Homo sapiens: one gene and its partners. The protein of the gene in region 3 interacts with the protein of the main gene of each other region in a pairwise test. Each region holds a gene or a part of one and is shown on either strand. Other genes may lie near its edges.

Region 1 (7,308 bases), on a different chromosome or scaffold from region 3:
TGATTTCTTTCCCCACATCTGATCAGTTCATGTCTTCTGTATTGAAAGCATTCTGAGGTCAGGCTCAGTGGCTCACGCTTGTAATCCCAGCACTTTAGGAGGCCGAGACGGGAGGATCGCTTGAGTCTGGGAATTCAAAACCAGCCTGGGCAACATAGAGAGACCCTATCTCTACACAGAATTAAAAAATTAATGGGGCATGGTGGTGCACACCTGTAGTTCCAGTTACTAGGGAGGCTGAGGCAGGAAGATCACTTGAGCCTCAAGGCTGCAGTGAGCCCTGATTGTGCCACTGCACTTCAAACTGGGTGACAGAGCAAGACCCCCATCTCAAAATAAATAAATAAATAAATAAATAAATAAATAAATAAATAAAGTAAAATAAAGAAAAGAATTTAAAAAAAGTATATTATGGGATATCTAAAAGTTGACTGTAGAATGAAATATGTTATTATTATTTTTTTGAGATGGAGTTTCACTCTTGTTGTCCAGGCTGGAGTGCAGTGGCACAATCTCAGCTCTCTGCAGCCTCTGCCTCCCGGGCACAAGGATTCTCCTGCCTCAGCCTCCCGAGTAGTTGGGATTACAGGCGCCTGTCACCATGCCTGGCTAATTTTTGTATTTCTAGTAGAGACGAGGTTTCACCATATTGGCCAGGCTGATCTCGAACTCCTGACCTCAGGTGATCTGCTTGCTTCAGCCTCCCAAAGTGCTGGGATTACAGGCGTGAGCCACTACACCTGGCCAGACATATATTATTGAAGAGTAAGTAGTATAATGGTTATAAACACTGAGCAGGGCCTTAGCAAAATAGGTAGCTACTATCATGTGGCTTAGGGAAATGAAAATAGCTCAGTGGAGCTAGAGTATAGGTAGTATAGGGTAATTTAAATAAAAGTTAAAGTATATTTAAGCTTGGTATGTCTACAAAATTAGATTAAAAGAAGAAAACCAAGACCTTTAGTGATAGGAATTGCATGTAATTTTTTTTTTTTTTTTTTTTGAGACGGAGTTTCACTCTTGTTGCCCAGGCTGGAGTACAGTGGCATGATCTCGGCTCACTGCAACCTCCGCCTTCTGGTTTCAAGCGATTCTCCTGCCTCAGCCTCCTGAGTAGCTGGGATTACAGGCACCCACCACCACACCTGGCTAATTTTTGTATTTTTAGTAGAGGTGGGGTTTCACCATGTTGGCCAGGATGGTCTCAAACTCCTGGCCTCGCGATCTGCCCGCCTCAGCTTCCCAAAGGGCTAGACTTATAGGCGTGAGCCACTTTGCCCAGCTGTAAGTTTTAAAGAACCATTTACTCAGTTACAACCAGTAAAGCAGGCGTGTTTCAGAGGAGAGTTTAGTCATTGTTTGCTTAATTGTCAGGAACAATACAAACTGCTCTGGAAGAATAATACGGGTATGTGCAGGGGGTGGGAGGGCAAGAACAACAGCTTTCTGAAGGGGTGTTTGTTTCTGTGTGTATCAAGAGAAAGCAGGAAATGGGAGCTGGCTAGGTCAGCGGTGATGAAGACTCTCTCTCCTGTCCCAGCTCATTTCTGTTTGCTCTAACTATGACAGCAGGGCTTGGAACAAGTTTGCAGGGATGAAGGCCTGACCAGAACATCAGGGAAACAATCCAAGTGTGAGGTAGTGCAAGTGCTAGTAGACCTATGATCAAGGATGGACAAAAAGGGAATTCTTTAAGCAGAAGGTGGGTGGCAGGCAGGAAAAGTACAGGGGCTTTCAGTCCCCAGGGAAAGCTGTGACAGGGGCACGATGCAGCAGCTCCCTGCTCTCTTCTCTCTCCTCCCTAGAAAAAAACAGAAAATGAAGCCACCAGGAAGCACACTATTCAGCAGAAAGTGGTAAAACAATGTAATTGAGGGAGTTGTAGACTTTCTTCCTGAAAAACGCTCAGTGTTAGATAGCTCTCCCCCACCTTTTGTGGGTTCAAAATGACCTTGTGTGGAAGCAGAGGGATTGCCCTGATGGCCCTGCATGTGCATGCAATTGAGTGATGCTGGTCTAAGATACTAGAGGCTCATCTTTCTACAATGATGAACAGTTGAAAAGCAAAGTATCTAATAATAGGCTGGGTGTGGAGGGGGTGGATGTCTTTTCCATTCTTTCCTCTTCCAGCTCCTGAAGCCTGGGGGAATAAGCAAGAGGGATGTTGAGCTCTTGATTAGGTTTGTAACCCAGACACTACTGGTCCTGATGAATTAAAAGAACATTAAGGCTGTAGCCAGCGACACCACATTTTTCATTTAACCAAATTGATTACAGCTCTGACTCTCCTAATAGCCTGGGAAGGCAGGCTGGCTTCCTCTGACGTGCTTAGGAGAAGAAGCTGGGGCACCAGATTGACACAAGGCTTTGATCAGAACAGTAGGCAGCTGAGTCTGCTGCCGTGGAAAAGTTGAAGCGCATCAGGCCAGTTCGCTTGGCTTGATTCTGTGCGAGGGGGCTGCAGCCCTCTTTCTGGCTGGAGTCCTGCAGATACTGGTTGTTGGCATGGGGAGCAGGAAGGAATGAATAGAGTAGAGCCAGCCCCTTTGGGGAAGCAACAAGTCCTGGAACACACCTGGCTAAGGGTGGGGGTGGTGGGTAACCTCTTTGAATGTAAAGGTCTCATTAGTCCATTGTAACTTGGCTCCCCATTTCCTCCACTGCCCTTGTTCTGGCTGCTCCACAGGTGAAGGGGGAGGGCCTCTGTGCCTCAGGGGCTGTGAGCACAGCTTCAGCCTGATTGAGGACTCCCCAGAGGTCTTCCCCCACCTTTTTCGTAACATCCACTGAGTCGGCAGCCACTTGCCGCCTTGCTCTGAGGCAAGCCAAACTGGGGATAGTCTCCAACTGGGGATGGTCTGCCAGTAACACCTGGTATTATTGGCACAGTGATCTGAAAAGTGCCCTCCACTGCCTCTTCTCTCCCCAAAGCCTGAATCCCACTTGTTCTTTGCATCTCCTCATATTGCATTCATTCCACCTCTCACTCACTCACCTAGTACGTATTGAAGACTGACCTCAGGCCATGTACGGTTTTGTACCCAAAAGCGAGGCAGGATGCTACAGTCCTATTATAAAAGTTAACTCCAGGCCAAGCGCAGTGGCTCATGCTTGTAATCCCAGCACTTTGAGAGGCTGAAGTGGGTGGATCCCTTGAGGTCAGGAGTTCGAGACTAGCCTGGCCAACATGGCAAAACCCCATCTCTACTAAGAATACAAAAATTAGCCGGGTGTGGTGGCGCACGTCTGTAATCCCAGCTGCTCGGGAGGCTGAGGCGGGAGAATCCCTTCAACCCAGGAGGCAGAGGTGGCAGTGAGCCAAGATCGCGCCACTGCACACTGCACTGCAGGTTGGGTAACAGAGTGAGACTTGTCTAAAAAAAAAAGAAAAAAAAAAGTTAACTCCAAAAGAGTTAAAGCGGATATTCAAATTGTGCTGTAAGGAAGTTCTGGTGCTGCCCTGGCAGCTCCTGGGTAGGTTAGGAAGGGCTCTGTTTTGCCCTTGCCACCCTTCTCTTTCTCCCAGGCTCTTCCGAAATGCCACCACTTAACTGTCTGCAGCTCCTTGGTCCAACGCACCATTCAGGGACTGTTTCCCCACCTGCAAACTGCCCACGCAAAATGCCCACCTTAAAGGGATGTCTTACGTATTAAGCAAACTAACATGTGTGAACACCCTGTCTTTAATAACCAGTAGCGTCCTCCTTTTCTTTCTACCGTCTTCCAGCTCCTCTCTCCTTGTCACCCTGCAGTTCTTACTCTCCCCTCCGCTGTTCTATTTCCATAGGCCTCAGGCACCGCTGTCTTCTCTCAAGCATCCTCCTCTCTCTCACCCAACCTTTAGGCTCAGAAGCCCCCACCATCCAGGTGGCCAATATAGGTAGCGGTGACCTAAGCGGAGAGGGGAGGAGGGGAGGCTAGGGGCTCAGGGATCCCAAAATGGCCATGGGGATGGGGGCTCCTGAGCCCAATAATTTAGCCTTGAGCTGCAGTGGGTTCGGGAAGTTGGAGAGAAGGAGCTGGCTAGAAAGGAGACCAGCCTTCTGGGGTGGGGAGTATAGAGCTCCTTTCCAGTCCGCCTTCCTGCTGGGGAAGCAGCCTCCTTGACCTTGAGCAGGAGGCGGGGGCGCCGAGCGCCTGGGGGGCTGCGCAGAAAGAACCCGTCCCGGGGGGCAGGCCCGCCCTCCGCCTCCTCCGGGCCTCCTCCGCCTCGGTCCCCGCCCTCCCACGCCGCTTGGTCTCCTCCCCTCACTGCAGCGCTCGCCGCGCGCGCCCATCGATCAGGCCCCCTCCCTCTGCCGCCTCGGCGCAGACTGCTAAGCTCAGCAAGTCTTGCGGCAAAGGCACTTCGGAGCCGAGTTGGGGCAGCGGTGGAGCGGGGACTTCGCGCCCCCAGGGGAACGGGCGCCCCTGCGAAACCGTCGCCAGCCACGCGTCCTTGCCGTCCGACGCCCCCTCACATTGGAGACCCCGGATCTCTCCCGCCTCCTTCGGGTCGCTCTCCGGTAAGTCCATACCCCCGCCGGTGGGGGCACGGACCTCCCTCTCCAAAGTTTCTCCTTTCCTGCTACTGAGTCGAGGGGCCACGGGGTGGTCTGGGTCCCGAGAGGTGAGTAGGGTTGGGGAAGTTTGAGGCCAAGGGGGCCGGGAGTCTGCCCCGTCCTTTGGGGGAGTTTGGAAGCGTCCGGATGGAAGGTTCGTCTCGGGGAGTCGGACCCGAGGGGCGAGGAGCCGGCTCCTCTGAGGGACTGGGGCTGGGCTGGGGGCAGATTTCCTCCCGCGGGTTGCTGCAGAGAGGGGCGGGCCACGCGTCCCCTGCACCGGCCGGCTCTGCGCCCCCGTCCCTCTCTCCTTTCCCTGGGACGAACCCACTCGCGTCTAGCCCAGCCCCCGCCAGCCCTAGCGGTCTCCAAGGAAGGTTCTTTTGCCCCAGTCTCAAGCTTCGGGGACCCCTGGCACCGCCGTCGTGGGAAGTGGGGCGGGGGGTGGGGTCTGGGCGCTGGGAGCCGGAGACCCTGGGTCAGGGAGAGGTTGGGGAGACAGACTGCAGGGGCCATCTGGAAGCAACGGGCACGAGGAGCTGGGGCAGGGGCCCAAGAAGGGGCTGGAGGCGCCCCTCCCCTCTCTCCAAATCTCATGACTCAGCACGACCTAGGACGCCCCGTCCCTGCTTCAGCTCTGTCCCCAAGGGCTAGGCTCGCAGCCTGGCGGGTGCTGACAGCCCGACTCCCTTTTCTGGACTCTTCCATGTACCTTTCCCATTTGGGGTGCCCCCTTCCCCTGCCTATGCTCCTTCCCCCACCTCTGGGGCACAGGGCTTTTATTTTTCAACTAAAAAGTGGAGCTTTATCGTTTCACATCCCACTAAGCCAGGCCCCCTCATCCTGTCTCCTCCCTTTTCATCCCCACATTCCACAGGTGCCTCCAGGACACCCCCAGCCCATGGCTCGTGGGGTGTCTCCTGGCAGGGCAGTGTCCTCCCTTACCCCTGGCTGAGGTGGCAGAGTAGGTGCTCTCCCCGCAGCAGGAGAAGGGAGTGCAAGGACAGAAGAGGTGCTGGCCCAGGAGGGGCCACTGCAGTGGGGAGGGAAGGGCAGAGGCCCCGTGGGCAGGTAGTACAGGTTGAGTTAGCTTATAAGGAGGAGGAAGTCCTTAGGATCTGGGGGCGCCCAGGAAGCCAGAAAGGTGAACTGGGGTCTGACCTGGAAAGCAAAAGGGTGCCCTTCTCCCTCCCCTACTGCTGCCGCCCTGCGGGGCCTCTCCCAGGTGGAATAGATTGTCCTCCATCCAATCTGTCTGGATCCCCATAACCTGGCACTTCATTAGAGGGGGTGACAGAAGCAGGGAAGCCCTTAATCCTTTCAACCATCTCTCCCTACTTAAGACTAAGTCCAGCTTTGGGGCTGCTAGAAACATCTCTGTGACCAGCAGAGGTGCTGAAAAAAGCCATGCCCAGTGCCCCAAAGGCGGGCCCGAGTGGCAGGTGGAAGGGGGCAGGGTGGCTCTGATGCAGTGGGACGTGCCTGGCATCCTGGTCCTGTGGAATGAGAGTGGTGGTCTGGCAGGCACTGCAAGCTGCAGCGTGTGTCAGGGCCCTGGGGGTGAGTCAGCGTCAGGGGTCCACGCCAGGCACACTGCAGCCTAGGGAGTCCAACTCCAACCCATCTCCTCCCATGCCCCTGGAAAATGGCCAGTGCCCACTGAACCCCGACTGAACCACCTTTCCCTCAGGGTGGCTGCCTCTGCTCTGCTTGGCTGCCAGGCAGATCCCTGGCTTCACCCTCTAGGACTCCCCCCAGAGGCTTGGCTTTTTCTGGAGATCTTTTGGGCTTAATCCTTACCTTCTCCCCTCCTTGTCTTGCCAAAGGAGGAGGAGAGGGAGGCAGAGGAAAGTTTCTAGGTTATAGCCTCACATAGACCTGGCCCACCATTCCCTGGAGGAAGAGAGACCAGACCACTCTGCTGGGAGTCTGCTTTGTTCTGCAGTCCAGGAGCTTGGTCCAGGGAACTTGGGTTTTCTTTTGGGGGAAGGGGGTGATTATGCAGGAACATTTCTTTTTCAGCTTTGGGGTCTGACATCCGCAGAACAGGACCAGGGGAAGCAAAAAGTGTTGGTGTTCGTAAACATTGACTTTTCACCTAGAGAAGCTTGCAACTGGCTTCAATTTAGGACTGAAGCTGGTTTCACCTGGGCAAAGCATGTACCTTGCTGAAGACCTCGCAGGGCCGAGGAGACCCTTTCTGGAGCTGGGTCTGGGCTCACCTGCCCTCACATTGCAGCTGGAGCTCGTTTTATTCCTTCTACCCTTAGGCAGCTTCCAGGCAGGTGTGACAGGGCTGTCTATGATACTGCAGAGACCTGGGGGTGGGCTTTGGAGGTGGCTGGAGAAGCCTCTTCCTTGCCCTTCTCAAGCCCTGGGGACCAGGCTACCCCAGTGTTCCCCAGCCCCTAGGCAAGCCTGACCTCTAGTCATTCTTTCTGCCTCCATCTGAACATTATCATATCTCAATGGGGTCTCCTTTTTCTTCCCCGCCAGGCCTGTGCCGCCCTCTCAGGGGAGAGTAGATAGAGGGGCAGTGAGTGCACTGGAAGCAGGGGGACAGAAGGCAGTGAGGACAGAGTGGGAGGAGGTTGGGCTTCATTTGCCTGGAAGAATGACCATCATTCCCTTCCCTGGACAGAAGCATCCTCGTGGAGGACTTAAGGCTGCAGATGAGTAGAAACACTACTTCACTTGGCTTTGGGATTTGCTCTGTGGACTTCCCCAGTCTAGGCAGGTCCTAGCTGAAGCCAGAGTATCCCCACCA
Region 2 (7,905 bases), on a different chromosome or scaffold from region 3:
CGGAATCCCTCAAGTGTCTTTCTTTTTCATAACTGTCGTGCCAAAACCCAGTTAGTGGTGTCCACTTCCAGAATGGCAGTGTGTGCAGCTCCGTGGACCCCTGCCCCAGTGAAACAGCACAACTGATGACGATTATTCAAAAGCAAGCACTGAAAGCCTCTGGGCATGGTGCCCAGGGCACACAGCAAACAAAGGTTTACACAAGAAAACCTGCCAAGGCCTGGGAATAATGGCAAGCCTGTTGGCACCTGAGCCATGACACTCCTGCCCTCCCACCTCCAGCACCCCTCTCCCCCCGCCTAGCACTGGGGGCAGGTGTGGCCAAGAAGAAGGGCTCCCTCTCCCCCAGCTCCCCGTCAAGGGTTAGGGTGTTTGCCCAGGAGGGCCAGGTTCTCAGCACTTCTCAACCCTCCCAGCTCCACATGGCAGAGGCTAAATTCCAGCTGAGTGTGGCAGACAGGCCAGGGGCTCCTTTCTTCCACCTGCCCCCAAGCATAGAATAGAGGCTATATCTCAGGCCCGGCAGGCTGGGAACATGGAGCCCCAGCTCATTTGTAGGAAGGAGGCTCCACACTGGGAGAGGGCAACCAAGAAGGCCAGAGGCTCCTGCCCAACCCAGCGACCTGCTCCTAAAGCAATAGCAGCACTCAGAGAGGTGCCCCGCTGTCCTGCCCCCAGTTCCACAGCATGGCTCAGACAGAGATTTAGCCTAGGGGTAGACGTAGGTCATAAATAGAGCTCTCCCCACCCACCAACCCCCTGAAAATTGGCTTGATTTGAAACAGTGCGTAGGGAAGTTCAAGTTTAAAGGGGCTGTCAAAATCAGTGGAAGTTTTGGTGGTGCGCCATTAAGAAGAGACTGGTACCCGCATTAGGGCAACCAGCTGAACCATAGGCCAGCTAGTTTACCACAGAGAAGTGGAGAAAGAGCTAGCTAGGAAGAGCCTGCCTGCTGTCAGAACAAACCTCACTGACCTCAAAAGCCACCCTGTCAAAGGAGCTCAAAATTAATTGGATCTGGCCAGGCACAGTGGCTCATGCCTGTAATCCCAGCATTTTAGGAGGCTGAGGTGAGTAAATCACCTGAGGTGAGGAGTTCGAGTCCAGCCTGGCCAACATGGTGAAACCCCATCTCTACTAAAAATACAAAAATTAGCTGGGTGTGGTGGTGCATGCCTGTAGTCCCAGCTACTCGGGAGGCTGAGGCAGGGGAATTGCTTGAACCTGGGAGGCAGAGATTACAGTGAGCCAAGATCATGCCACTGCACTCCAGCCTGGGCAACAGAGCGAGACTCTGTCTCAAAAAAAAAAAAAAATTTAATTGGATTGGACCGTGGAACACTTTATGCCCCAAGGTATTGTTTGTTTGTTTGTTTTTGAGACAGGGTCTCACTCTGTTGCCCAGGCTGGAGTGCAGTGGTATGATCTCGGCCCACTGCAGCCTCCGACTCCCAGGTTCAAGTAATTCTCTTGCCTCAGCCTCCTGAGTAGCTGGGATTACAGGCGTGTGCCAACACACTAGAATAATTTTTATATTTTTAGTAGAGATGTGGTTTCACCATGTTGGTGAGGCTGGTGCACCAAAGTATTATAAAAAACAATAGAGCGGCTGGGTGTGGTGGCTCACGCCTGTAATCCCAGCACTTCGGGAGGCAAGGTGGGTGGATCACTTGAGGTCAAGACTTCGAGACCAGCCTGGCCTACATGGTGAAACCCCATCTCTACTAAAGATACAAATTTTTGCCGGGCGTGCTGGTGCATGCCTGTAGTCCCAGCTACTCAGAGGCTGAGGCAGGAGAAATGCTTGAACCCAGGAGGTGGAAGTTGCGGTGAGCCGAGATTGCGGCATTGCACTCCAACTGGGCGACAAGAGCAAAACTCCATCTCAAAAAAATATACATAATAGTAAATAAAAAATTAAAAAGAGCAGTCTCCAGTACCTGAGGGAGTACAGGGGTGAGGGGAGCGATGCTACCTGGGCCTGGCTGGCAGGCTGCCCTCCATCTTGTGGAGACTCTTCCTCTGACTCTAACTACCTCAGAGTCCCAGCCCAGGGTTTCTCCAAGTCAGGAGCCAGGGTGTTGGGATCCTGGAGGTCACTGGTCACAAGCACAGCCTCCAGGCCCAACCCTGGCACACTCGGGGACCTGGGCCTGTGCATCTTAACCCAGTTCTCCCACCGTCCCTGCCCTACGACTTACGTTCTAGCATGACTGGCCTGGCCCAACAGCCTCAGTGGTGGGACGGGGGAGGCAGGAGCAGGGGCTCCCACGTGAATCCAGGGTGTCCCTGAGCTAAGGCCAGGCGGGGGTGACCTCCGCAGCTTCCGGGGCCCTGGGCGATCGGGCCGTCTCGCCTCACCCTCTCACCAGGCCCGACACATCTGCTGGCCACCTTTCCCGGTAGACGGTAAGTTCCTCCCAGGCAGGGCCGCGGCTGACTTCACTCCGTGGGTGTGGGGAAGCCCTGGCGAACAGAGCAGTGGACGGGCTGTCACGAGGGAAGAGGGGCTGTTGCAGAAGAAGAGAGGCTGTCCCGGGGCAGGGGCTGTCACGGAGGAAGGACTGTCACGGGGAGGGCGGCGGCGCGGGGTTGATGGACAGCAGGCGGGGTCTCCGGGAGGGGCGAGTAGGGCGGGACCGCCGCTGGGAAGGGGCTCGAGGCAAGGGAACCAGGAATTGGGGAGGACGGGAGGCAGGGGCTCGCGGGGGCGGGCCTGAGGGGACGCGAGCGGGCCGCCGGGGAGGCCTGAGGGGCAGGGGTAACGCAGACCTGGCGAGGCGGAGGGGAGCGGCGAGGTGGCCACGCCGAGGCCCCTCACGGCGGGGTCTGGGCTCACCTGGGGCGACTGGGCGGGGCGCGGGTCCGCGAGGGCCCAGATTCCGGGTCCGCGGAGGCCACGGGACCCCTCGGGTGGCTCAGCGGGCCGGAGTCTGCCGTCGACTGTTCCGGACGCCCGGGCGGAGGACTCCCGTGAGGGGGAACGGCCCGTGAACGCGCGCGGAGCTGCTCGCGCCAAAAATTCCAAACCGGCCTCGAGGCTCCTCCCCCTCCCCAGTGCAGCCCGTCAGGGGTGCCCGGGCTCCGAGGCTCCGCCCCTCGTGCTGCGTGCGCGCCGCCGAGCCGCCCCGCCGCTCACTGCGCAGGCGCACAGGATTCTCCGCGCTGGCCCGGGGCGTGGGTGGCGGCCTGGTTCTGAGTCGCTGCGCGGGGCTTCAGCCGCCCAGTCCCTGGGACGCCCACTGCCCTCCAGGCCTCGCACCCGACACCCACCGCCCTCGCTGGGCTGGCGTAGTGTTTGGGTCCATAAAAGGGACCGCCATCCCGGTGCTCGGAGCAGGCGTAGCCCCAGGGTTACTCCGGGTAGGACCAGGAAGTCCCTACGGCCTCCTGGGTCCCGGCACCCCCCTTCTCACTCCGGCCGTGTTCTGAACCAGGGTCGCGGTGGGAGGCCAGACGCACGACCCCCAACCCCTAGCGCACGGCTTCGGGAGCCAGAAAAAGCCGCCTCTTCCAGGAAGCTCTCCAGATAGGCAGGACTCTGCTTGGCCTGACCTCGCCTGCCTGCAGCTTCCCTGCCAACAGGCCTCAGATACTTTTTTTTTTTTTTTTAGACAGGGTCTCACTGTCACCAAGGCTGGAATGCAGTGGTGCAGTCCCCAGGTTCAGGCGGTTCTCCCAACCTCAGCCTGCCGAGTATGTGAGATCACAGGCGCGCGCCACCGCACTCGGCTCATGTATTTTATTTTTAGACAGGGTCTCATTCTGTTGTCCAGGCTGGAGTGCAGTGGGGCGATCTCGACTCACTGTAACTTCCGCCTCCCCCGCTCAAGCGTTCCTCCCACCTCAGCCTCCTGAGTAGCTGGGACCACAGGCGCGCGCCACCACACCCAACTAATTTTTGCATTTTTTTGTAGAGACGGTGTTTTACCATGTTGGCCAAGCTAGTGTCGAACTTCTGACCTCAAGCGATCCGCCCGCCTCGGCCTCCCAGAAGGCTGGGATTACAGGCGTGAGCCACCGCGATTGGCCGCAGGATCATAGTTCACTGCAGCCTCGAGCAGCCACTTCCGGGGCAGCTCCTCCATTCTCTGAGTTTGAGACTTGCTCTCAGCTCAGATCCCTTCAGCGCTCTCCTGGCTGAACGACCTTGGGAATGCACTGAGCCTTTCTGAGCTTCGGATTAGTCTCCTCTCCTGGAAAAAAAAAAACAGCTGAGGACGCTGGGATGATCCCCTAAAGTGATTAGCAGGGGCCCTCGCGGAGCAAGTCGGGCTAGGGATTGTTCCTTCCCTCACCGAGGGGCTCTTTATCTGTTTAACTGGGTGGGAGGAGTACGCTTCCGGCCAACCCTCCCCCAAACGCTGGCCTTCTCACTCTCACCTCTCCTTCCGCCTTATTTTTGCTATTGCCCTGATCTCTGTCCGATGTTCTATCTTTTGTTTGTGAGTTTACTTGTTGACTACCTGCTCCTTCTAGCCCTGGCCTCCAGAACCAGTCCCCCAAACCCTCCATCCTCCCCAAGTCTCTGACAGGTCATGGACTGCAAAGCTTCCCACCCATTCAGTTCCTGCACCCTCTGTAAACGTTCTGTGCATGGAGCAGCAGTGTGGGGGAGGAGAGGCTGGGATCCTGGCTGGGGGCGGCAGCCCACCTGCCTGCACCTTTCCTTGTCCTTCGCATCTCTGGCGGCTGTGCCCCAGTGACTCAGGCAGGATCCTTGTTGATGACTCCAGACTGGCCCCCAGGAGGCCTGGGGCACACACAGGCCCCTCCCCAGCTGCCTAGGGCTACCTCTGCCAGCCCCATCTCCCCAACAGGTCCCCTTCCAACCGCCCATTTTTTAAAGTCTGATTCACAATGATAATTAAAAAAAAAAAAAAAAAAGCATGGAAACACATGCTTCCGATGTAAATTTCACTGTGTGAGGAAAGGCTGTAATATAAATATATGTAAATGGAAATAAGTAGATGGAGCAGATAAGTGCGTGGTGTGAGGGAAACTAGGGCTGCGATCCTGCCTGCCCCAGTTTCTGCGTGTGTAAAATGGGGATAAAAATAATAGTTTTCTAGACTAGGCAACATAGCAAGGCCCTGTCTCAAGAAAGAAAAAAGAAAGAAAAGGAAGGGAAGAAAGGGAAAGAAAAAGAGAAAGAAAGAAAGGAAAGGAAAGGAAGGAAGGAAAGAAAGGGAGAGAAAAAAAGAAAAGAAAGAAGAAATAAAGCAGTGAGGCACAGTGGTACACACCTGTAGTCCCAGCTCCTCAGGAGGCTGGAGTAGGAGGATCACTTGATCCCTGGAGTTAAAGGCCGCAGTGAGGGCCGGGTGCAGTGGCTCATGCTGGTAACCCCAGCAGTTTGGGAGGCTGAGGCAGGTGGATCACTTGAGCTCAGGAGTTCGAGACCAGGCTGGCCAATATGGTGAAACCCCTTCTCTACTAAAAATACAAAAATTAGCTGGGTGTGATGGCAGGCGCTTGTAATCCCAGCTACTCGGGAGGCTGAGGCAGAATTGCTTGAACCTGGGAGGCAGAGGTTGCAGTGAGCCCACATCGCACCACTGCACTCCAACCTGGGTGACAAGAGCGAGACTCTGTCTCAAAAAAAAAAAAAAAAAAAAAGGCTGCAGTGAGCCTGGGCAACAGAGTGAGACCCTGTAAAAAATATAAAGTGATAATAATAGTAGTTCCTCCTTCCTCGGGGAGTATGAGCACCACATGAGAAAATGCCTGTGAAGTGCTTAGCACAGAGCCGAACACACAGTAGGGGCTTACTCATTGTTTCAGAATAACAGGCTGGGCGAGGTGGTCACGCCTGTAATCCCAGCAATTTGGCAGGCTGAGGCGGGCAGGTCACTTGAGCTCAGAAGTTAGAGACCAGCCTGGGCAATATGGCAAAACCCTGTCTCTACAAAACATTCAAAAATTAGCTGGGCATGGTGGTGTGTACCTGTGCTCCCAGCTAGTCAAGAGGGTGAGGTGGGAGGATCGCTTGAGCCCAGGAGGTGGATGCTGCAGTGTGCCGAGATGGCGCCACTGCACTCCAGCCTGGGCGACAGAGCGAGACTCGGTCTCAAATTAATAATAATAATAATAATAATAATAATAATAATAATAATAATAAAATAGTAAGACCCCCTCATCTGTACAGTCTGTTGCAGTTTTCAACGCTGCAGTCTGGGCCAAAAAGAGGCCCCAGGAGGAAAGAAGCCCGGACTCCTCTAACCACCTTGGGGTCACAGGGACCGAGGCACGGGCCCACAGGGTTCCGGACCAAAGCGCTTTGCCGACCTCCTTCCAGGAGGAATCCTCCCAGCCGCCGCCCAGGCACCCGGTTCCCGCGAGTCCCACCCGCGCGACCAGGCGCGGGCCGCGCGCGCCCCCGTGTGTCCCGTCGCCGCCACAGCACCCGCGGCTCCGCCCAGACTCTCCAAGGAAGACTCACTCATGCGGTTTCGGCCACAAAAGGAAAGGCGAGGCCGGGCGCGGTGGCTCACGCCTGTAATCCTAGCACTTTGGGTGGCCGAGACGAGCGGATCACCTGAGGTCAGGAGTTTGAGACCAGCCTGGCTAACATGGTGAAACGCCGATTCTACTAAAAACACAAAAATTAGCCAGGCGTGGTGTCGGGCGCCTGTAATCCCAGTTACACAGGAGGCTGAGGCAGGAGAATCGCTTGAACCCGGGAGGCGGAGGTTGCAGTGAGCCGAGATGGCGCGACTGCACTCCAGCCTGGGCGACAAGAGCAAGACTCCGTCTCAAAAGAAAAAAAGCGAGGGAATGACGACCACAAGTGCAAACGTGGCTATCCTAATGGGAGGAAGGGGACTGTGATGGGTGCTTCTGCGGAACTGGCTATGTTCTACTTCTTGACCCAGGTGCTGGGTGCATAGGGGTTTGTCTCATAAGTACGATAGCTGCACGGCACATTCACATCTCATGTGTGCTAATCTTTGCATGCTATGTTTCACACTTGAATAAGGTTTTTTATTTTATTTATTTATTTATTTATTTATTTTCAGACGGAGCCTTGCTCTGTTGCCAGGCTGGAGTACAGTGGCGCGATCTCGGCTCACTGCAACCTCCACCTCCCGGGTTAAGCGATTCTCCGGCCTCAGCCTCCCGAGTAGCTGGGATTACAGGCGCACACCACTATGCCCAGCTGATTTTTTTATTTTTAGTAGAGACAGAGTTTCACCACGTTGGCCAGGATGGTCTCAATCGCTTGACCTGGTGATCCACCCGCCTCGGCCTCCCAAAGTGCTGGGATTACAGGCGTGAGCCACCGCGCCCAGCCTGTGTTTTGATTATTTTTGAGACAGGGTCTCACTCTGTTGCCCAGGCAATAGTATGATCACGATTCACTGCAGCCTCAACCTCCCAAGCTCAAGTGATTCTCCCACCTCAGCCTCCCAAGTAGCTGGAACCACGGGGGTGCACCACCCAACCCTGGCTAATTTTTAATTTCTTGTAGAGACGGGGGTCTCATTATGTTGCCCAGGCTGGTCTCGAGCTCCTGGGCTCAAACAATCCTCCTGCCTCGGCCTCCTGAAGTACTGGAATTATAGGCATGAGCACTGTGCCTGGCCACACTTGCATAAGGCTTTTATTTTTCTGACACTACACCAAAGGAATTGCATAAGGTTTGGTTTTGTTTTGTTTTGTTTTAAGACGGAGTTTCACTCCTGTTGCCCAGGCTGGAGTGCAGTGGTGCGATCTCGGCTCACCGCAACCTCCACCTCCCGGGTTCAAGCAATTATCCTGCCTCAGCCTCCAGAGTAGCTGGGATTACAGGCATGTGCCACCACGCCCGGCTAATTTTGTATTTTTAGTAGAGACAGGTTTTCTCCATGTGGTCAGGCTGGTCTTGAACTACCGGCCTCAGGTGATCACCCCACCTCGGCCTCC
Region 3 (7,495 bases):
TTTTGAATCCTGCTTTTTTCTCTTACCACTATCTTAAACAAGCATTCCTCAGGAGGCTGCTGGTGCTGGCGTTCAGATGAATCCAGTGAAGCAGAGTGCTCACTATTACCACAGAGAAGGGAGGGTGCAGAAGTGGGAAGACAACTCTGGAGTCAGGGTGCTTAGGAAAGTCCTCACAGAGGAGGAGCTGGGTCTTAAAGGAGGGTTCACCGGCCCTGGGTGGGGCCCAGGTAGCAAAAACAGCAAGGTAGAGATCTGGAGGACAGGATTGGAGGCAGGGACGAGTTGTGAAGGGCTTTGCCAGCCGTCCCCAGGGGTTTGAGCTTTATTTACTCTGTAGATGTTGAAGATCCACTCATGGGCTTCAAGTGGTGAGAAACATCGGATTTGCATTTTAGAAAGGTTGCGTTTTTTCTACACACTCTTTCATCCTGTGATGAGTGAATTAGAAGGAAGAAGGCAAAGCTGGGAGACCTTTGGAGTCATCCAGGTGAGACATGATGAGGGCGTGAACCAGAGCAGTGGCAGCAATGAGAAGAGTAATGAAGAGGAGGGGATGGATCCCAAAGATATTTAAGAGGTGGTAAGGGTGGGAGTTAGTAGCTGACTTGGTGGCTTTCCCTTGGCCAGTGGGATGATGGTGGGCATGGCTTAGCCAGGGTCTTGAACCACACTTGTACAGCTAGCCTTGCTCAGCTTTGTGCCTCTGCCCTTGCCATGAGAAGAATATGCCCAGGCAAGTCCACTGGGCCCCGGAGGAGGATGAGAGACAGGTGGAGTGGAGCTACGCTGCCCCAGCCGTCTGCCAACCACAGACATGTGAGCTGTAATAGTAGACGGTAGTTGTTTTAGGCCAGGGTTTTTGAGATGATTTGTTATATGGCGATTGCTAACTAAGAAATGTCTTTATTCTTCTCTTGAATGCTTACTATGTGCTGGGCTTTGTGCCAGGCACTGGGAATACTATGCTGAACCAGGCAGGCAAGGCCCTCACTCTCAGGAACTCATGTTAGGGTGGGGATGTGGCAGAGGAAGCCAGACAGACTTTGAGACCGCTGGTTCTAACTGGGTGCATGGTGGTGCCATTAATTGGGGTGGGGGTCTTAGGAGAGAAACAGGTTTTGGGGAAAAGATAATGGGTTTGATTTTATTTATTTATTTTTTAGAGACAGAGTCTCACTGCATTGTCTAGGCTAGTCTTGAATTCAAGAGTTCTGGGCTCGAGCGATCCTTCTGCCTCTGCCTCCCAAAGTGCTAGGATTACAGGCATAAGCCACCACACCTGCCCATGGGTTTGATTTAGGAAAGGAGTTTGGGATGCCTGTGGGACATTAGGGGGAGCTGTCTAGGGAAGGGCAGGAGCTATAGGTGTAGCACACAGGAAAGAGGTCTGGCCGGGGACAGAAATTCTCAATATAATATTGAAAATAACCTGTAGCAAAGGGAGTGAGACAGAGTAAGTGCTGTAGAAATTCAGAAGAGGAAGAGAAGCCTTGGGACCTGGGGGAATGAAAGAGATTTTGTTCTGAAGGTAACCTGCAAGCTGGTTTATACTCATGGAAGTGAGAGGAGAAAGGCACGCCTAACAGAATGAATAGGACCTGCAAAGGCATGGAGATGAAAGACAGGAAGAGCTGGATTGTGAGGAAAAGGCTGAAGATGTCAATCGGGGCAAGGTCATGAAGAATCTTGAATGGCAGGCCAAGGATGCTGTTGTGTTTCATTAGGAAATAAGGAGATATCGAACATTTTTTTTTTTTTTTTGAGATGGAGTTTCGCTCTTGTTGTCCAGGCTGGAGTGCAATGGTGCGATCGCGACTCACTGCAACCTCCACCTCCCAGGTTCAAGCGGTTCTCCTGTCTCAGCCTCCTAAGTAGCTGGGATTATAGGCGCATGCCACCACATTTCAGCTGAAGCAGGCCTGGTCACATTAATACCTACCCATCCATTGTTTTTTTGTATTTTTAGTAGAGACAGGGTTTCATCATTTTGGTCAGGCTGGTCTTGAACTCCTGACCTCAGGTGATCTGCCCATCTCCGCCTCCCAAAGTGCTGGGATTACAGGCGTGAGCCACTGTGCCCAGCCACTATCGAGCATTTTTGAGCAGGGGAGAGACATTTGGTACGTATGTCTAAGAGATGGGCAGTCATGTGCAGGGGATGAGTTCTGCAGTAGAAAGCAAGAGATATTGGTTCTAATCTCAGCTCTTCCATTTACTGGCCCTGGGATATGGGGTAAATAATGTCCCCTCTCTGAGCTCTGTCTCACTGCAAAAAAATGGGAGTAAAATTTTCTGACCTTCACATGAATCTTTTTTATTTTATTTATAAATATATTTTTTGGAGAGGAAGTCTTGCTCTGTTGCCCAGGCTGGAGTGCAGTGGCATGATCTTGGCTCACTGCAACCTCCGCCTCCTGGGTTCAAGCAATTTTTCTGCCTCAGCCTCCCAAGTAGCTGAGACTACAGGTGCATGCCACCACACCCAGCTAATTTTTGTATTTTTAGTAGAGACAGGGTTTCACCATGTCGGCCAGGTTGTTCTCAAACTCCTGACCTCAGGTGATCCACCCGCCTCAGCCTCTCACAGTTCTGGGATTACAGGTGTGAGCCACTGCGCCCAGCCTGAATTTTAATTATGTAAGAACCATGACAAAATGCGAACGAAGTGCTTGGAAGACCACAGAGCAATGCACAAGGCTGGGTAGGTATTAATGTGACCAGGCCTGCTTCAGCTGAAATGTGAGGCTGGAATTCCCAGACAGGTGTGCATACTACAGATGCCATTTCCTTAACCTCTGTCTTTTCTCCCACCTTGGAGAGGGGATCGACAGAGATGTGAAGCCATTAGCAGCTGGCAGAGCTGGGATTTATGTTCTCAAGCCCTACCTTCCCATTCTTGATGCAGTCCCACACCTCCCTCCACATGAACAGGACATGTCATTTAGAGAGGGCCTGCCCAGGACGGGCCTGCGTCAAGGCCACAAAGCACTGGCCTGTGCAACAGTCACTATCCTCAAGGAGTTCACATGCTAGTTGGATCATGAGAGCACATACCTCAAAAAGCCATTGGGGTGGCACCTGATAATGGGCCAGGTAAGTGGTGCAGACAGTCGCTGGTGGAGGGTGAGGAGAAAGTAGAGAGAAGCAGCATGGGAGCCGGGCGTTGAAGACTGGTGGGGTTTAAAAGAGGGGAGGGGAAAGGAGCCAGAAGGACTGGGGAGGACTCTTTCCTGTGTCAATCCATTGGTTTCCCCTCAGCACTGAAACCAAACACCAAAACCCCATTTAATGGAGCAAAGACAAATGTGACCACAATGAGAGAACCACCTCACACCCATTAGGATGGCCATTATAAAAACAAAACAGAAAATAACAAGTGTTTGGGGTGGATGTGGAGAAATTGGAACCCTTGTACATTGCTGATGGGGAATGTAAAATGGTGTGGCCACTGTGGAAAACAGCACAGTGGTTCCTCAGAAAGTTAACCATAGAATTACCATATGATCCAGTATTTCCACTTCTGCATATGTACTTGAAAGAGTTGAGAGCAGGGACTCAGACAGACCTTTGTACACCCGTGTTCATAGCAGCCTTATTTTGAGTAGCCAAAAGGTAGAAGCAACCCAGGTGTCCATCAATGGATGAATGGATAAACAAAATATGGTGATATATACAATGGAATATGATTCCGCCTTTAAAAGGAAGGAAATTCTGGCTGGGCACAGTGGCTCACGCCTGTAATCCTAGCACTTTGGGAGGCCAAGGCGGGCGGATCACCTGAGCTCAGGGGCTTGTGACCAGCTTGGGCAACATGGTGAAACCTCGTCTCTACTAAAATTCAAAAATTAGCCGGGCATGATGGTGTGTGCCTGTAGTCCCAGCTACTCAGGAGTCTGAGACAGGAGAATCGCTTGAACCCAGGAGGCGGAGGTTGCAGTGAGCCAAGATTGCGCCACTGCACTCCAGCCTGGACGACAGAGCGAGACTCCGTCACAAAAAAAAAAAAAAAAAAAGAAGGAAATTCTGACATGTGCTGCAACATGGATGAACCTTAAAGACATTAGGCTAAGTGAAAGCTAAGCCAGTTATGCTAAGCCAGTCACAAAAGGACAGTGTTTGTATGATTCCACTTATATGAGGCACCCAGAGTAGTCAAATTCATAGAGACAGAAAATAGAATAGTGGTTGCCAGGGGCTGAGGGTATGGGGAATGGGAGTTTGTATTTAATGGATACAAAGTTTCTGTTTGGGACAATGAAAAAGTTCTGGAGATGGTTGGTGGTGACAGTTGCACAACAATGTGAATGTACTTAAGACCACTGAATTGTACACTTACACATGGTTAAAAAATGGCATGCACACACACAAGGACAAATGTGATGAGTCACTTACATCTCAGAAATATGAGTGACATGGAACTGTTTGAGAAGAAGTGGAGGAAGAAATGGGGTCCCCAGTGGATAGGCCTGCTGAGAAATCAGCAAGTAGTCTAGAAATGGGGCTGATTGGTGCAGCAGGCCAGCCGACTCTTCAACTGACCACAGATAATCCAAAAAAGCTCTAGGGAGTACAGACACCTCCCTCTAAGTAGCATTTGGGTAGAGTTGCAGAGAAGTCAGTGGGGTGGGTGGGTTATTCTGTTCTTTGCTCTGTTTTTTTTTTGTTTTGTTTTTTTGGAGACAGAGTCTCACTCTGTCTCCCAGGCTGGAGTGCAGTGGCGCAATCTTGGCTCACTCCAACCTCTGCCTTGCGGGTTCAAGCGATTCTTCTGCCTCAGCTTCCCAAGTAGCTGGGATTACAGGAGCGGGCCACCACGCCAGGCTAATTTTTGTATTTTTAGTAGAGACGGGGTTTCACCATGATGGCCAGGCTGGTTTGGAACTCCTGACCTCAAGTGATCCGCCGCCTCGGCCTCCCAAAGCGCAGGGATTATAGGCGTGAGCCACCGCGCCCGGCCCTCACCTGTCTCTCTTGCGCCCCCCGCAGCCAGCCCCAGTCGGCGCCATGGCGTCTGCCGAGCCCCTGACGGCGCTGTCCCGCTGGTACCTGTATGCCATCCACGGCTACTTCTGCGAGGTGATGTTCACAGCGGCCTGGGAGTTCGTGGTGAACTTGAACTGGAAGTTCCCTGGGGTCACGAGCGTGTGGGCCCTCTTCATCTACGGCACCTCCATCCTCATCGTGGAGCGCATGTACCTGCGGCTGCGCGGCCGCTGCCCGCTGCTCCTGCGCTGCCTCATCTACACGCTCTGGACCTACCTGTGGGAGTTCACCACCGGCTTCATCCTGCGCCAGTTCAACGCCTGCCCCTGGGACTACTCCCAGTTCGACTTTGACTTCATGGGCCTCATCACCCTGGAGTACGCCGTGCCCTGGTTCTGCGGGGCCCTCATCATGGAGCAGTTCATCATCCGCAACACCCTCCGCCTCCGCTTCGACAAGGACGCTGAGCCCGGGGAGCCCAGCGGCGCCCTAGCCCTGGCCAACGGCCATGTCAAGACTGACTGAGCAGGAAGCGGGTGGGGGGCCTGGGGATCTCTCATGGAACTCATGGACAAAGAGACCAAGCTGGTGAGGTTGCCCCATCCATGCAGCAAAAGCCCTGCTCCGGCCAAGCCTCAGCCCTATAGGGCACACAGAGCCCCCTAACGTCCGCGGGGGCCGGTGTTGGGGGGCCGTGGTCAGGTGTTGGGGGATGGGGTGTGGAGGCAGCAGAGGGACATTGGGAAGGGTCCATGGATCGCGGCCCAGTTCAGGGGTTGGTACCAGGAGGCCTGTGGCTGAGCAGCGATGGACTATGTAGTTGACTTTGGAAGCAGCAGGCCCTGTCCTGGCCAAGGGACAATGAGAATGGGGCCGCAGGTGGGAGGCAAGGCCTGACCTCCCTCCCTCCGATCTGGATTTAGTTGAGCTTTGGCTGGTTCCATTAGGCAATATTCAGGTGCTTGCTTGCAACCAATACCTCCCCAGGGGCCTGCTGAGCTGCAGCCGAGGAGAGACTGGGCAGCCAGGAGGCTGCGTGGCAGCAACGCTGGTCTGCAAGGGCTGGGAGACCCTCCCTTGGCTCCTCTCCCCTCCCCCAGGGCCCTGCGCTGCTCCCTTGGCCTTCTGGGGCCCCCGTGGTGCTGGATTCCCACCAACCTTGGGCTTTTGGAGGTTTCAATCCCCGTGTGTTCGGTGGCGTTTCCCCCTTTTCTGTCTTGTTTTCAAAGCCTTTACCACTAGCGGCTCTTTATCCACGTCGGTCGCCACACCTGCCCCACCCCAGCTCCCTAGCCAGCACAGGAGCTGCCGGAGATGAAGCCCTGAGACACCCCCAACCCTCACCCCCTTGCAGCCCTTCCCTCCACTGTTCCGGCTGGCCTGATGCCTGGGGAGTTCCTGAGTTACACCTCCCTACCCCCGGTCTAGTGGGCTGTGGCAGTGCTCCCTTCTCAGTGGCTCAGCTGAGAACAAATGATGCCCTCCAATGCACAGGCAGGCTGGGTTAGGCCCTGTGGATCCACAGTGGGGACCTAGAGGCAAGTCAGTTTGGTGGGGAAAAGCCAGAGTTCTAGGTCATCTATTCCCTGCCTGGTTTATTTTCAAGCCAAAACTGAGCAGTCTAGCTTTCTATGGGATGGAGAAGCCAGGTATCCAGCATTGGAGACTGATGGAGAATGAGAGGAAGAAAGAGAGGAGGACCTTGCAGCTGTGGAAGGCTCCTTGGAGCCTCCTTTGTGGGAGGGTATCAGTTCTGGTTCTGCCAGAGCCTCAGCCCTGGTAGCAGAACCTCAGGGCTGCCCCTCTCCCCAAACTCCTCCCAGCAAGGCTGACCCTTTGAGCTCACTCCTTAAACAGTATTAACCCTGCCACACTCATGGGCATTGGCACCTTGGTTCCCCTGCCCCACTTTGTCCTGTGACAGGTCCATTGCTGGCAGTGGACAGGTGAAATACTCACTCCAGCCTACTTCCGGCTCTGACTCTCACTCCTCAAGGGGAAGGGTCCGTTAGAAAGTGGCCCACCCCATGGTACATGGTCTCTTCTTGACCACACTAGGACTCTTAGGTAGAAATTAGCCTTCCCCTTTTTATGGATCATTACAAAGTGACGGTATCACCTGTGGAGAGAATGTCCTCTTCCCTGCTGGCTGCCCTGCCCATACTGTGCAGGGTGTGGTGGGGTGCAGGGTGTGGTGGGGTGGGCCACAGTTGTGTCCTAGGTCTGGAGAAAAGCTTGCAGACTCTGCCTTTGGCAGGATTTTCTGCAGTTAGCCCCGTCCAGAGCAGAACGAAGGGTATTTCCTAGCCTATTTCCTGGGCAGGCTCCTCAAATCCAGGGATGAACTACTTTCTGCAGTGGCCAGCCCTCCTTTTGATTTTATTGTGGCCCCAATTCCAGGGCTTTGGGGGTTACAGAGAATCAGGCTTCCGGTGGGAGTAGATTGTTTTCCATCTATAGGTGGAGAAAATTCCAGGAGGAGAATATTGTCTGGCTTCCCCGTTCTCTC

What was found. Proteins that work in one complex are often made in the same cells at the same time.
Region 1: the proteins of TMEM229B (region 3) and SYT2 interact in binary tests that used the Homo sapiens proteins (3 or more experiments, as listed by UniProt).
Region 2: the proteins of TMEM229B (region 3) and PKMYT1 interact in binary tests that used the Homo sapiens proteins (3 or more experiments, as listed by UniProt).

Annotation. Positions count from the first base shown.
Region 1 is NC_000001.11:202,707,455-202,714,762, reverse strand, and holds the start of SYT2 (synaptotagmin-2), read left to right. Parts: upstream 1-4,308; 5' UTR 4,309-4,505; intron 4,506-7,308. UniProt on the Homo sapiens protein: Exhibits calcium-dependent phospholipid and inositol polyphosphate binding properties. May have a regulatory role in the membrane interactions during trafficking of synaptic vesicles at the active zone of the synapse.
Region 2 is NC_000016.10:2,977,447-2,985,351, forward strand, and holds the start of PKMYT1 (membrane-associated tyrosine- and threonine-specific cdc2-inhibitory kinase), read right to left. Parts: upstream 3,001-7,905; 5' UTR 2,840-3,000; exon of another isoform or gene 2,773-2,839; intron 2,548-2,772; exon of another isoform or gene 2,467-2,547; 5' UTR 2,212-2,466; coding exon 2,202-2,211; exon of another isoform or gene 1-2,201. UniProt on the Homo sapiens protein: Acts as a negative regulator of entry into mitosis (G2 to M transition) by phosphorylation of the CDK1 kinase specifically when CDK1 is complexed to cyclins. Mediates phosphorylation of CDK1 predominantly on 'Thr-14'. Also involved in Golgi fragmentation.
Region 3 is NC_000014.9:67,471,436-67,478,930, reverse strand, and holds part of TMEM229B (transmembrane protein 229B), read left to right. Parts: intron 1-4,989; 5' UTR 4,990-4,993; coding exon of another isoform or gene 4,994-5,007; coding exon 5,008-5,511; 3' UTR 5,512-7,495.